2 linked regions of the Homo sapiens genome follow. The protein of the gene in region 2 interacts with the protein of the main gene of each other region in a biochemical or structural test. Each region holds a gene or a part of one and is shown on either strand. Other genes may lie near its edges.

The links. Proteins that work in one complex are often made in the same cells at the same time.
Region 1: the proteins of UNC13D (region 2) and RAB27A form a complex in vitro, tested with the Homo sapiens proteins (one study listed by BioGRID).

What each region holds. Positions count from the first base shown.
Region 1 is NC_000015.10:55,286,789-55,294,469, forward strand, and holds the start of RAB27A (ras-related protein Rab-27A), read right to left. Parts: upstream 3,026-7,681; 5' UTR 2,928-3,025; exon of another isoform or gene 2,664-2,927; intron 121-2,663; exon of another isoform or gene 1-120. UniProt on the Homo sapiens protein: Small GTPase which cycles between active GTP-bound and inactive GDP-bound states. In its active state, binds to a variety of effector proteins to regulate homeostasis of late endocytic pathway, including endosomal positioning, maturation and secretion.
Region 2 is NC_000017.11:75,827,405-75,834,404, forward strand, and holds part of UNC13D (protein unc-13 homolog D), read right to left. Parts: coding exon 6,921-7,000; intron 6,740-6,920; coding exon 6,671-6,739; intron 5,642-6,670; coding exon 5,562-5,641; intron 3,945-5,561; coding exon 3,839-3,944; intron 3,766-3,838; coding exon 3,694-3,765; intron 3,258-3,693; coding exon 3,174-3,257; intron 3,079-3,173; coding exon 2,958-3,078; intron 2,748-2,957; coding exon 2,624-2,747; intron 1,580-2,623; coding exon 1,383-1,579; intron 683-1,382; coding exon 561-682; 3' UTR 1-560. UniProt on the Homo sapiens protein: Plays a role in cytotoxic granule exocytosis in lymphocytes. Required for both granule maturation and granule docking and priming at the immunologic synapse.

The DNA.
Region 1 (7,681 bases), on a different chromosome or scaffold from region 2:
GCAGTAAGGGTGGAAGCAGGGAAGCCCTTCAGAAGGCTTTTGCAGTAATCCAGGTGACAGAGATGATAGAACTTGGTGGAAGCAGCAGAAGTGGTGAGAAATGGTTATCATCCTAGATGTATTCTTTTTTTTTTTTTTTTTTTTTTTTTGAGACGGACTCACACTCTGTCGCCCAGGCTGGAGTGCAATGGCACGATCTTAGCTCACTGCAACCTCCGCCTCCTGGGTTCAAGCGATTCTCCTGCCTCAGCCTCCTGAGTAGCTGTGATTACAGGCACCCACCACCACGCCCCGCTAATTTTTGTATTTTTAGTAGATACAGGGCTTCACCATGTTGGCCAGCCTGGTCTTGAACTCCTGACCTCACGTGATCCACCTGTCTCGGCCTCCCAAAGTGCTGCGATTACAGGCGTGAGCCACCGCACCCGGCCTGCTGAGGAATTTAATGTGGGGTATAAGAGAAAGAATCAAGAGTGATTTCAGGGTGTTTGGTGTGAGCATCTGGAAGAGTGAAGTTGCCATTCACTAAGATGGAGAAGACTAGGGGAAAAGCAGCTTTGGGAGAGAAAACTCAAAAATCTGGCTCCTAGAGATTGTTGCTCACTTTAAAACCCTTACATCTATTTTAGAACCAAAACAATAGAAATTGAGAAGCTGACTTTAAATTTCATGTGGAAGGCCAGGCATGGTGGCTCATGCCTATGATCACAGCACTTTGGGAGGCTGAGGCAGACAGATCACCTGAGATCGGGAGTCCGAGACCAGCCTGACCAACATGGAGAAACCCTGTCTCTACTAAAAATATAAAATTAGCCAGGCATGGTGGCACATGCCCGTAATCCCAGCTACTCAGGAGGATGAGGCAGGAGAATCACTTGAACCAGGGAGGCGGAGGTTGCAGTGAGCTGAGATCGTGCCATTGCACTCCAGCCTGGTAAATAAGAGCAAAACTCCATCTCGAAAAAAAAAAAAAATTCATATGGAAATTCAAGGGACTGGATAGTCAAAACAATCTTGAAAAAGAACAAGGTTGGAGGACTCACATATCCTGATTTCAAAACACTATGTAGCTACAATAATCAAGGTAGTATGATACTAGCCTGAGGACAGACATACAGATCAATGGAATAGAACTGACAGTCCAGAAATAAACCTTTACATTCATGGTCAATTTATCTCAACAGAGGTGCCAAAACTATTCAAAGAGGAACAGTCTTTTAAACAAATGGTGCTGAAAGAACTGGATATCCACATGCAAAAAGTTGAAGTCAGACCCCCTGCCTCACACCATATTTAAAAATTAACTTAAAATGGGTCAAAGAATGAAATGTAAGAGCTAAAAACTATAAAACTTTTAGAAGAAAACATAAGTATAAATCTTCATGATCTTGAATTTGACAATGTTTTCTTAACTTTGACATCAAAAGCACAAACAACAAAAGGAAAAATAGGCTCGGTGCAGTGGCTCAAGCCTATAATCCCAGCACTTTGGGAGGCTGACGCAGGTTGATCACTTGAGGTCAGGAGTTCAAGACCAGCCTGGCCAACATAGCAAAACCCCGCCTCTACTAAAAATACAAAAATTAGCCAAGCATGGTAGCACACACCTGTAATTCCAGCTACTCTGGAGTCTGAAGCAAAAGAATCACTTCAACCCAGGAAGCGGAGGTTGCTGTGAGCCAAGATCATGCCACCGCATTCCTACCTGGGCGACAGAGTGAGACTCTGTCTCAAAAGAAAAAAAAGGAAAAATAGATTAAATATACTTCAACGAAATTAAAAATCAAGGCACGTCACAGAAATTAAGGAAGGAAGAAAAAAGGGAGGGAGGGAGGAAGAGAGAATGGTAGAAAGGAAGGAAGAAAAAAGTAGGAATGAAAACATAAAACAACATAAACCAACATAAAATACAGAAAATAATGATCCTCAGTCAAGTTCCTTCAGCATTATATTAACCTTTCTTCACTTCTAACCATCTGCAGAAACTGTTTTCCAGATTGTATTTTCCCTCTAAAGCAAGTTTTTAAGGCCGAAAAAAAAAAAAGAACAAGAACAGTGAGTGGAGAATCAACAAATTTAATTAGCAATGATTACAGAAAACTTAAATAGCACACACAACTCTATAATCCCTCTACCCCCAATTCCAACATCTGACTGATCAACCAACCATAAAATGTGAGAATCCATCCAGAAGGAAAGAACAGCTGTTAAGCTGTAGGGGTAAGGACCCTGTGGCAGAAGACCCTGAGGCCATGTGGGCCCAGGTGGCCAGCAGGAGCGGAAAGGCTGGGAAGGCTCCTCAGTCCAGGGCTCACAAGACTCCCTTCGCTTCAGGCCTGACTTTGCTGAACTGGTGATCTATTGGGACAGAGACAGGCTTTGGCAATAGTTACCAAAGCCTGTCATCATATCTGCACCACCACCAGTCCCGACCGGAGGGCCTGGCTGCCAGGTAGTTTTCAGTCTAACTGACAGGAGAAGAGAGAGCCCCTCCCTCGCAGCTAGTCTGCAGTCCAGACCCTCACCAACCGGAGGGCAACCAGGTTAAACAGTTAAACTGAAAGCAAAAGAGGGAGGAATGAACCGGGGGGCGTGCGGGAGGTCGGGGACTTTCCTCCTTTCCCTCCTGGAAAGTTTCCTACCCCTGATGGGCATCCTCCCACCTGGATGCAACCCGGAGGCGATCTGAGACCCTGGCCGGACCTGGGACCGCACCTGGCCAGCACCAGGCAGTTGTCATCACTGGGGTCTGCGCTGAGGGCCTGGGAGAGAAGCCACTCTTCAGGCGGGCTCGGGCGCCTGGAGGCGGGGAGGAAGGGCGGCGCACTCGGACCCCAGCCCTAGGACGGCCCCAGGGGGACGCCTCGCTCGGCCCTCCCGGAGGGACCGGACCCGCCGCGCGCCTCCCGCTCCTCAGGCCCCCTCACCTGGCTCGCCCCGCCGTCCTGTCCCCGCCTGGCTCGGGTCCTCGCGCGCCGCGTCCACCCGCCGCCGGCCTTTTTTGGGTCGTTGGCGGGTATTTTCCGCCTGGCCCCACATCACTTCCCGTAAAGGAGAGCGAGGTGGGGCGGGACCTTCTCTCCTCCACCTCCCGCCTTCTCCTGTCACCTCGGGAGCGGCCCCCGCCCGGCTGGCGGGGGGCGGGGTGCTGTCGCGCTCTCCCCGGCGGCCGCGCCTCCGAGGGGTCCTCTGTGAGCCCCGAAAAGGCCCCGCTCGCCTCCTTTGTCCCAACACTAGTTTCCGCTGCCCCATTCTGGAAGGCGCTACAAAATATAGGAGTGTTTTCGTTTTGGGACACAGGAGGGACATTTACAAACTGCACCAAGGACCGGTGCGCGGCGAGGTGTCGTTTGGGGACTCTCCCCTATTCACCTCCCCAAAAAGCCATGTTCTAAGGGTGTTTTCCACGGCATCAGTTCGCGGTCGCCACCGTAGCAGCCGGAGGTGCCGGGCGTACTCACGCCGGCCCCGCCCGAGGTTCCCGAGTCCGCGCGGCTCCTGAGGCGGCGTCCCAGGCCCGGCCCTGCCCCCGGCTTCCCGCCCCTGCGGCTCCTGGCTTAGGTCGGCCTGGACACGGCGTTTCCGGGGCAAGGGAATGCCCAGGATTCCTGGAAATAACATGGGAGAAAAATAAGTAAAAAATTTCGCAGGAAAAAAATCAATGTAATTCCGGGAGGAAATGGCAAACGGAGTCTCTGCTCACACTGTGTAATTCAAGAATATAAAACCACTGTAAATTTCTAAGAGTGTTAGAGCAATGAGTTTAAAAAGAAGAAAACTACAGTATGTTAAGGAACCGCCTCTGTCGGAAGAAACCTGCGCGCCTTTGCTGCCACCCAGCGGCTCTCTTCTCCCAGCGCCAACGGTGTCGCTCCGGCCTGCGGGGTAGTGAACCTGGGACTGCGTAGGGGGTCAGACCTCGTGGTTCCCACTCAGAGGCAGCCAAGTTCATCCCTCTCAGTGGCCAGGAGGTGTGAACAGCAGCCCTTGGGCCTGTCCCTATGGAGTCTAAGGCAAAGGCCCTTTGAACCAAATGTTTCCACTTCTAAGCAGAGTAAAATGTTGAGAAGCCTTAGTTCAGCTTCCCTTCTGCCTTCTAAGCCGTCTCGCTGACTTGTGTCTACCTCCACCGCAAATTCCAGCTGTCGCAGGCCCACCCGGTCAACTCCATCACCTTTCCAGTCTGTAGCTACTCACAGTTGGCATTACAGCAGTTAGCTTCTCAGGTGGGTCCAATTTACAAAATCACATATAGGATGAACCATATGAAATTACAAACAGTTGGCAATTTCATACATTTGATATAACATTTCCAGGCAAACATAACACAGTAAACTCGGGTTTAGAGATAACAAATGTCCTAACAGGTTGATAACTTCAAGAGCTCTTCCCGTGTGAGAGAAGGGCCATCAGACTGTTGGTGAGGTTAAGAGAGAAAAAGGCCGGGTTAGGTGGCTCACGCCTGTAATCCCAGCACTTTGGGAGCCCGAGGCCGGCAGATCACGAAGTCAGGAGATCGAGACCATCCTGGCTAACACGGTGAAACCCCGTCTCTACTAAAAATACAAAAAATTAGCAGGGCGTCGTGGCACGCGCCTGTAGTCTCAGCTACTTAGGAGGCTGAGGGCAGGAGAATCGCTTGAACCCGAGAGGTGGAGGTTGCAATGAGCCGAGATGGCGCCACTGCACTCCAGCCTGGGCGACCGAGCGAGACTCTGTTTCAAAAAAAAAAAAAAAAAAAAAAAAAAAAAAAAAGGGAAAAGGTAGCCTCATGTTCATGTCCAGAGGAATAGTCCTGGGAATCACTGATCAGCTAAAATCTGGGAAACCAATAATGTAGTAATTGCTAATGGCTGATATGGCACAGGGAAAGCCTGCCTTCAGCTTTCCCCACTCCTGTGGCCAGGCAAGGCTCTCACCAGGAGTATACCAGACAGGAGATCAGAAAACCTAGGATGGTGCTATGGCCCATTCATCACCCATTCATTCACTCATTCATCAAGTCAGGCACCCTATTAGTAAACAAGGTAAACTGGTCCCTGACGTCAGGACTTACTTGAGAGACCATCGAATAAGTAGGCAACTCCAGTAGTGAGATAAGAGCCTCAATAAAGGAAGTTAAAGAGTGTTATTGGAGCACAGATAAATGACACCAAATCAAGAGAAAGTTAAGGATAAACTTAGAATGAATGAGGGCAAGGGGCAAGGGAGAAGAGAATTCCAGGAAAATGGAGCAGAGGGAAGGCCTGGAAGCAAAAGATAGCATTCAACACTGGAGCAACAGGAAGAGGTTCAGAAAAGCTGAAAGACTGAAAGCAATCAGAAAAGAAAATGGAGAAATAACAGAGGCTGTGCGGTGAATAACCCTGCAATGATGATCATGATCATAACTAACATTTCTTGATCATTTACTATGAGTCAGCCAATATGCTAATAGTTTTGACTACATCACCTCATACGTGTCTTACAACTACTTTATGAAGTAGGTACTATTCTTACCTCTGTATTACAGATGAGGAAACTGAGTCCTAAAGCGATTAAGCAGTCTGACCAAGATCATGCAGCTAATAAGTGGCACAGCCAGGCCTAAAACTCAGAACTCAAGTTTTTAATGGTTCTAAGAATGGGTCTGAGAGGTCAATTAGCACGCTGTAATCCAAGTGAGGGATAATAGCGATCTGATTACGGCAGTGGCCATAAGGATGGAGATGAATGGACATATTTGACATATTTAGGAGAGTGAATCAAGAGGACTGGGATGTAGGGGTGTGAAAGAGAGGCAGTAGTCCATGGGGATGCCCAGTTTCTGGTTTGGGCAACAAGAAACCATTAAGCAACAGGAAGAAAACCTAGTTGCAACCAGGAGGAAGGGTGAAATAGGCCATAGTGATGAGTTTAGGACATTTCCATTTTGACACACTAGCACCAACAGAATATCCAAGTGAAGCTGTTTAGTATGTAGTCAAACAGGCCTATCTGAAGCACAGAAAACATGTGCTGTAGCTATTACCCAAAAGGTACTGGAAGGCATTAGAATCAATGAGCTAATCTAGAAAGTGAGCTGAGAGGGCAATAGGCTTGTTACAGAACCCAGATGAACACCCAGCATTTAAGGCATGAGCAATGGAAGTTCAAAAAGGAATCCAAAAAAAGAGTATCCAGAGAGGTAGGAAGAAAACAAGGAGAGTGTTATTACAGAAACTAAGTACACTGAACACATCTCGTGTGTCAGTTCAAAGTCATCTCTACGCCACTTCTTACTGCAGCCACAGAATCGATCACAGTATACCTCTTGCTTCCCACACTGGGGCTTTTCTGACACTGCTACTTGCAACATGGAGAGTTCTGCCTCCAGTTTTCCTAATAGAATTAAAGTGGATGGAATCAGTAAGAATTCATGGATTTTAATAAATAAATATAGATATATGTATGTGTATATGTATGTATTATCTAGCTCTGTCTGCTAAGAGGTCCTAGAAGCAATTATATCAAAGTAGCTACGAGTACACTTAGCACCTGGATGTTGATTTCTTAATATCCCTTTCCAACAAAAGGAACCAATTACATAATATTATATATGGAAAATCCTAAATAAAAAATCTATTAGTGCTAATAAATGAAATAAGCAAAGATGCAAGATACTAGATCAACACATAAAAATCAGTTGCATTTCAATGTATTAGAAATGAACAATTGAAAAGGAAACTTTAAAAGTTCCATTTACAATAATATCAAAAAGAATAAAATACCTAGGCATAAATTTAACCAAGAAGGTGCAGGATTTATACATTGAAAACCACAAACCACTACTGAAAAAAAAAGAAAATCTAAATAAATGAAAAGACATGGCCAGGCGCGGTGGCTCACGCTTGTAATCCCAGCACTTTGGGAGGCTGAGGCGGGTGGATTACCTGAGGTCAGGAGTTTGAGACCAGCCTGGCCAACTTGGCGAAACCCGTCTCTACTAAAAATACAAAATTTAGCCGGGCGTGGTGGTGGGTGCCTGTAATCCCAGCTACTCGGGTGGTTGAAGCGGGAGAATTGCTTGAACCCGGGAGGTGGAGGTTGCAGTAAGCCGAGATCGTGCAACTGCACTCCAGCTTGGGTGATGAGTGAAACTTCTCAGATAAAAAAAAAAGAAAAGAAAATACATTTAATGTTCATGGAATCAAACACATAATATTGTGAAGATGGCTATATTCCCCAGATAGAGCTACAGATTCAACAACATTTTTGAAGAAATGGAAAAGTGTATGCTAAAATGCATATGAAATTGCAAAGGACCCAAAAATTTAAAAAGTTCATGCTTCCTGATTTCAAAATGTACTACAAAGGTATAGTAATTAAAAAAAAAACCTATGGTATTGATATAAAGACATATAGATAAGTGGAATAGGCTTGAGAGTCTAGAAATAAAATTATGCATCTATAGTCAAGATCTTTCAATGGAGAAAGAAGTTTCCTCAGCAAATGGTACTGGGAGAACTGGATATCTACATGCAAAAGAATGAAACTGAGGCCTGGCGCGGTAGCTCACGCCTGTAATTTCAATACTTTGGGAGGCCAACATAGGTAGAGCCCTTGAGCTCAGGAATTCCAGACCCAACTGGGCAACATGGTGAAACCCTGTCTCTACTAAAAATAGAAAAATTAGCCAGACGTGGTGGCTTGCACCTGTAGT
Region 2 (7,000 bases):
GTTCTTGGCTCCAGGCTTCCTGGCCTGGATGCTGGCAGCCCCTGGGGAGAGGACCCAGGCCCCCTCTAGTAATGGCCACCACCCTCCCCCCAGGGCAGCTGGAGCCTCATCTTTGGCAGGGTCCCCTCTCCCTTTTCCAGGAGACTCTGTGCCTGTAGCCCTGGTCCCAGTGAACCTGGCCCCCACCCCAGTGGCTGGAACAGGAAGGCCAGGAGGCAGATGGGCCAGGGCCAGGAGACAGATGGCCCAATCCCCTGCCCACCACAGCAGCTTTTCTGAGAGGCGGGCAGGGGCAGGGTTTGCTCCCCCTGGTGCTGGGATGTGGTAGAGACATTGCAGCCAGGGCTGGAGGCAGGGAGGCGGGAGTAGAGATGTCGCTGCTGAGCCCCCATCACCATGGGAGGCAGGGGAGGTCTGCACTCTGGGCACTCCGCATGCTGGGGCTCCCCAAGTGTTAGGCCAGGCTGGAGGGCCGCGATGTGGCGGGGAAGCCCCAGACCCTACAGGAAAGCCCTTGCAAGTCCCCACCGGGGACCCAGCCCCACCGCAAACCTCTACGGCTACGGTGCCGGCCGCAAGGCATGCTGGGAGGCCTGCTTGGCCCGGTGCCGCCGCAGCCTCACAAAGACCTGGGCTTCTCGGTCACCCTTCCGGCCCTCCAGCAGCTGCAGGATTGGGTCCCCTGCGGAGAGAGGGGTTTGGGGGTCAGATGCCAGGGGAGAGGGCAGTGCCTGGTGGTGGCAGAGAAGAGTGTGTGGGGGGGTACACAACACTGCTCCATCTCCCCAACAACCTGGAAGGAAACAAGTGACAGACCCGCGCCAGCCCAGCCCAGGAGGTGGTCTGACAGACGCATCCGGTCGGGTCGCGTAACAGACAGAGTGCTGCTGGGACACTGTCCTGACTGCAGCGAGGGGCTGAGATGTGCCTGAGGTTTGACTATTACCTTTTTATACGAGAACCTAAAGCTAGCAAGTTAACCTTTTCATGCCTCGGTTTACTCATCTGTAAAAGAGTGCTAATATCTGCTTCGTTGGCTGGAATGCATAAAGTGCTTAGCACTTGCTCATAATAAGTGCACAAGCATCAGACCGTTGCTGGTATCAAAAATGCTCTGCAGGGAAGCGGCCCCGCCGAGTGAGATCCAGGCCCTTCTCCCCAGTTAAACTTCTTGGTGACTTCCCCATGCAAGGAGAGTCACGTTACACTTAGCTTAAAGTTCACTGGTCTCTTGATTAGACCGAGAGATGGGCCGTGGCTGTCCCACTGGCTCCCGTCTCCAGGGAAGCTGTTCTCCGACCCTGGCATCACCTCTCTGGGGCCCCTGCCTGAGCTTTACAGGCTCCCGTCCCCGCACCACCCTGCCCTGGGCTCAGGCCTACCGTTGGGTGCGGGGTACGTGAGGGGCAGGCGGGTCTGAGGCACCTCACCAGGCTCCTCAGAGCCACTCAGCCCGGGCACCTCACGCAGCGGCAGGAAGGCCTCGCCTTCCAGGTCGTCGGCCCCCAGCGTGTCGTAGTCCAGCACGGTGAGCAGGAGGCATGCCCCAGCCTTGCGGCACGGCTCAGCAGGCACCAGGCTGCGGGGAGAGTCAGGGCTCTGCTGCCAGCCCCAGCACAGCCACCCCAGCCTCGGCACATGGGTTCACCCACTTGGTGTTGGGAACCAGCCAGGGTTTGGACTGCAAAGCCAGCTCTCAGCCTGGCACCTCTCAGCCATGTGGTGCAATGCCTGCTCTGACCGTGGGCTGATGCTTTAAACCAGCGGTCCTGTGTTCCCTGTTCACCTGTGCTGAGGAACTAGGAGCAGGTTACTGAGAACCTCAGAGACAGGACCCTTCCCTGGAAGTCCCTAAGTTAAACACCTGGGAGTCCACCCCTTCCCCCAAGGGAAGCAAACTTTTTTTTCTGAGACGGAGTCTTGCTCTGTCACCTAGGCTGGAGTGCAGTGGCGCCATCTTGGCTCACTACAACCTCCGCCTCCCGGGTTCAAGTGGTTCTCCTGCCTCAGCCTCCCGAGTAGCTGGGACTGCAGGCGTGTCCCACCACACCCAGCTAATTTTTTGTTTTTAGTAGAGACGGGGTTTCACCATGTTAGCCAGGATGGTCTTGATCTCCTGACCTCGTGATCCGCCCGCCTTGGCCTCCCAAAGTGCTGAGATTACAGGCATGAGCCACCACGCCTGGCCCTCTTTTTTTTTTTTTTTTTTTTTGAGATGGAGTCTCACTCTGTCGCCCAGGCTGGAGTGCAGTGGCACCATCTCAGCAGCCTCTGCCTCCTGGGTTAAGCAATTCTCCTGCCTCAGCCTCCCGAGTAGCTGAGAGTACAGGTACCCACCATCATGCCCGGCTAATTTTGTATTTTTAGTAGAGACTGTTGGCCAGGCTGGTCTTGAACTCCTGACCTCAAGTGATCCGCCTGCCTCGGCCTCCCAAAGTGCTGTGATGACAGGTGTGAGCCACCACATCCAGCTGCAAACTCTTGTCCCAGATGCCCCATCCCTTGGGCCCAAATGTGGCCATCTCAGGGGAGCCCCTTGGCCCCAGCCAGGAGGAGCAGGCCTGAGGGAGCCCAGTGGGGAGAGATGAGGGGAGGGACTGGGAGAAGAACGGGACCCACTCACAATTCAAAGGTCTCATCAAACAATGGGTGAAGGTCCTTCTTGTGCTTCTGGGTCTCCCGGGCGGCCAGCTCAGGGAACTCATGCCTGGGCTCCAAGGTCAGCTGGACAAAGGGGTCGCTGGAGCCTGGTAAGTGGCCGGGGAGTGTGCGTCAGCTGAGGGTCTCCCAGGCACCCCACCCCAGCAGCTATGCTCTGCTCAGCGGCACTGACCCCTCCTGGTAACTGGAGGAAATGCACCCAGAGCTCCTGCAGGGTGAGCGAAGCCCCCAGGGTCGCTGAGACAGGAGGGCCAGGACGGGACCATGGAGAGTGGCCAAAGGCAGCCTCCACTCACCATTGGAGTCCAGGGGCAGCAGGCTGGAGGCGCTGAGCAGCTCCACACGCAGCTTCTGCTCAGAGGCGCGGTAGGAGGCCTTGACTGTCACAGCCCCCAGCTCCTCAGAGGTGGTTTCTGCCTGGGGTGGGGAGCAGGGGCAGGGTCAGCAGGGTCACAGCGGGAGCGGGGTGCTCCAGGGCCTGCAGAGGGCGCAGTGCGAGGGAGGGGCCTCACCTGCTGCTGGATTCGGCTGCAGAAGTACTTCCGGATGAGTTCCCGGCTGGAGGCCGCCTGCAGCTCCAGGTCCCTCTGCAGAGCCTGGGAACACATACAGCTGAGGATCCACCTGGACTGCACGCCCAACCACAGCCCAGGCCTGCCCTCCAGGAGCTCACTGTCAAGGGTAACATGTCCGTTTGAAATGGAAAGTATTGGGTCATGGGACAACGGGCTGGGGCCACCCTCAGGCCAGACAGACAGCAGGAGAGGCACAGACAGGGCTGGCTTCACAGGCGTGCTTCCCCGACCCCACCCCCCATGCGGGCACACAGGGCCCCTGTGCTTAGGAGGACCCAGGCTTGGTTTCAGGTTCTGTCGTCACCGTTCTAAAATTTGTAATAACTTTTGAATAAGGGGCCCAGTTTTTCATTTTGTACTGGGCCCCATAAATTATGTAGCCGACCCTGGACATAGGTGAGTGCCAAAAGGCAGGCTCCCCAGACTTCCTACGGGGAAGCTCACCCAAAGCCCCTACCTGGAAGGTGGCAGTGTGCAGGGCCTTGGGTGGCAGGCCACAGCCCTCAGCGTGGAAGCAGATCTCCAGGTTCTGGGGGAGATATCAGAGGTGACCCCAGGCACCCTCCCACCAGGGTTATCATTGCTGTGACCGGTTCTGTTACCTGCAGGGCAATCTTCAGCCTGTTGGAAGCCAGGGATGAGCTGCGCTGGGAGGCGGCCGCCTCCACCAGCACTGTGAGTGTGTGGGTCCAGAGCAGGGTCAGGAGGCTGGGGCGGGGCCGGAGGGATGCGGACACAGCACGGCAGGGCGGTGGCGGAGGAGGAAGCAAAGACGCTCTTGAGAAAGGGGCGGCCTCAGTGACCCAGCCCCACCCCAGCTCCTCCCACCCCCAACCTCCCCCTCCGCCTCCCACCCCAGGTGAGGCTGGGGAGAGGGTGGGTACAGGACCAGCAAGGGGCAGGTGGGATCAGTCCTATCCAACACACCTCTCAACCTCAGTGAGGAACCCTCCCCAGCACACTAACGGAATGCACAAACAAGGCTGGAGACAGGGAGGAGGCCAGGCCCCCAGTGACAACCATGATTTAAGACAGAACCAGGCCGGGCGTGGTGGCTCACGCCTGTAATCCCAGCACTTTGGGAGGTCGAGGTGGGTGGATCAGGAGGTCAAGAGATTGAGACCATCCTGGCCAACATGGTGAAACCCCGTCTCTACTAAAAATACAAAAATTAGCCAGGCATTGTGGCACGTGCCTGTAGTCCCAGCTACTTGGGAGGCTGAGGCAGGAGAATCGCTTGAACCCAGGAGGCGGAGGTTGCAGTGAGCCAAGATTGCACCACTGCACTCTGGCCTGGCAACAGAGCAAGACTCCATCTCAAAAAAACAATTAGCCAGGCATAATGGCATGCACCTGTAGTCCCAGTTACTCAGCAGGCTGAGGCAGGGAATCACTTGAACCCGGAGGCGGAGGTTGCAGTGAGCTGAGATCGCGCCACTGCACTCCAGCCTGGGCGACAGAGCGAGACTCCGTCTCAAAAAAATAAAAAATATATATACATGGTTTAAGAAATAAAAACGGCCGGGCTCCGAGGGGCCCTGGCTTATACCTCTGGGGGTGGAACAGAACTCTAGGAGGGCTGCGGCCTCTTCAGGGCCCAGATTCCACAGGGAGGTGGGGCGCTGTCATCATCATCGTCACTACCGCTAATAGTCACTGACCACTTCCTTTGTACTGACACCACGCTCAGCACCTCACATGACCCATTTAATCCTCAACAGAAGCCAGAACTACTCTCATCTGCACCGGGAACTTGCCCAAGGCTGCTAAGCAGTGATGAAGCCGGAGTCTGAACCCAGGTGGTCCAGAGCCCATGTGCTGGACTCCACCGCCTGTTGCCTGGCATGCTGGGTCCCTGCTATAAGACACCCTAGCTAGAAGTTCTCCCTGCACCGTGGGCAGGGACCACCTGTAACCTAATGGGGGCAGAGGAGCAGGCAGGGAGGCCCTGAAGACAGGCCTGGGACTAAAGGAGAAAGGACAGGTAGATTTTGGCTCAGCCTAAGGAAGAACTCAAAGCACTCAGAGCTAGGCAGCAGGAAATGGGGAGGCCTGAGAAGTGGCAAGCTCCCCGTCCCTGCAGCGAGCCTTAGCAGAGCCTGTTGCACCCATAAGGGAGGTCACCAAAGGGATTCACCTCCACCCCTCAGAACGGATGCTGAGGCCCAGGAAAGAGGGGCCGTGGGAGGAGAGGGGGAGGTGGCGAGCGCGCCCAGGGCAGGGGCTGCTACACCCCTCAGAACGGATGCTGGGGCCCAGGAAGGAGGGGCCGTGGGAGGAGAGGGGGAGGTGGCGAGCGCGCCCAGGGCAGGGGCTGCTACAGACCTGCTGAAGTTCTCCTGCACCAAGTTGGTGTTCATGTAGCAAAGCTCCACCTCCAGGAACTTCATCAGGGGCAGAATGGCCTGGGGAGGGAGATGGGGAGCAGGTGTGGCTCCGGCCCATGTTGGCCCCACCCCCATCCCCTTCCCCTGACCTGGAGGGAGGAAACAGGGCTGGGAACCGTTCTGTGAGAGCAGTTTGTAGTGTCTGTAAGAGGCCGGCCTGCCCACCTCTCTGCCTTCCCCTCTCCGTTGCTCAGCCTGTCCCAGCCACACTGGCCTCCTCTACAGCCCTGGAACCTTCCAGGCATGGTCCTGCCTCAGGGTCTCTGCCCTTGCCGTTCCCTCTGCCTGGAATGCTCCTCCCCTAGAACTTCTCATGCCTCCTCCCCTTGCTTCCCGTAGGTCTTCGCTCAGTTGTCACGGCCTTCCCTGGCCACCATCTAAAAATACAACCCTCTGACACTTCTCAGCCGCTTCTCTGTTTTAAATTTTCTCTGTAGACTTATCATTATCTAGCACACTGCATGTGTGTGCACGCGCATACACGCCTGTGCATAGAGTTAACAGCTATAACTATCACTATAGTTATGGATACTCACTATGTAGCTCTTTTTTCACCTCCACTACTAGAACGTGGGCTCCAGGAAAGCAGGTATTTTGTCATATTGTTCACTGACCTATCCCCAGTGCTTAAATCAATGCATAGGACAAAGTGGGGACCTAATAAATAGTTGGTGAATGAATGAATATCCTTCTACCCGCCAGTCGAAGGTGTGCATCATGATATGCCCCCACTTACAGGTCAGCTGGCTTGTGTGAACAGGACGGCAAAGCTAGGAGGCAGCTGAGAAGGATGTGCACCCTGGCCTGTTTGGCTGCAAAGTCTAAGCCGTCCCCAACTGCAGCCCCCTCATTGACTGTCAGTGCTGGGACAGCCAGTGGAGTGACCCAACCCGTTCCTGTGAGCATCCCAGGAGGAAACTGAGGCCCAGGGAGAGAACATGCTTTGCCTGGTCTGGGGGACTTATCTTTGACACCAAGGCCTTCAATGACCCCAGATCTACAGAGCTGGCAGGGTGGTGAAGGCCAGCAGGCAGAAGGGCCACTTACATCCTCAGGCAGGACAGACTCCCTGACGCCCACCAGTTTCTGGATGTGCTTGGCGATGCCCACCTCCAACTGGAGACACAAAACGGAAGAAGGAGGGAGGTCAGGGCATGAGTCGGGGATGGAAGAGTTCCTTAGGGCCTGAGTTTAGACGCACGAAGGGGTCAGGGTTGGACCTTGGCCCAGGTGCTGCTGGAGCCAGGTAGGCTGAAGACGGGATGGGATGGGGTGACTGTGCGGTCGGACAAGGTACCTGCTCGGCCAGGGTGCGGACGCCAGTGCGGATCTCATGGCCCAGCCCGGCCAGCGCGCTCTGCAGCTGGGCATGCAGCG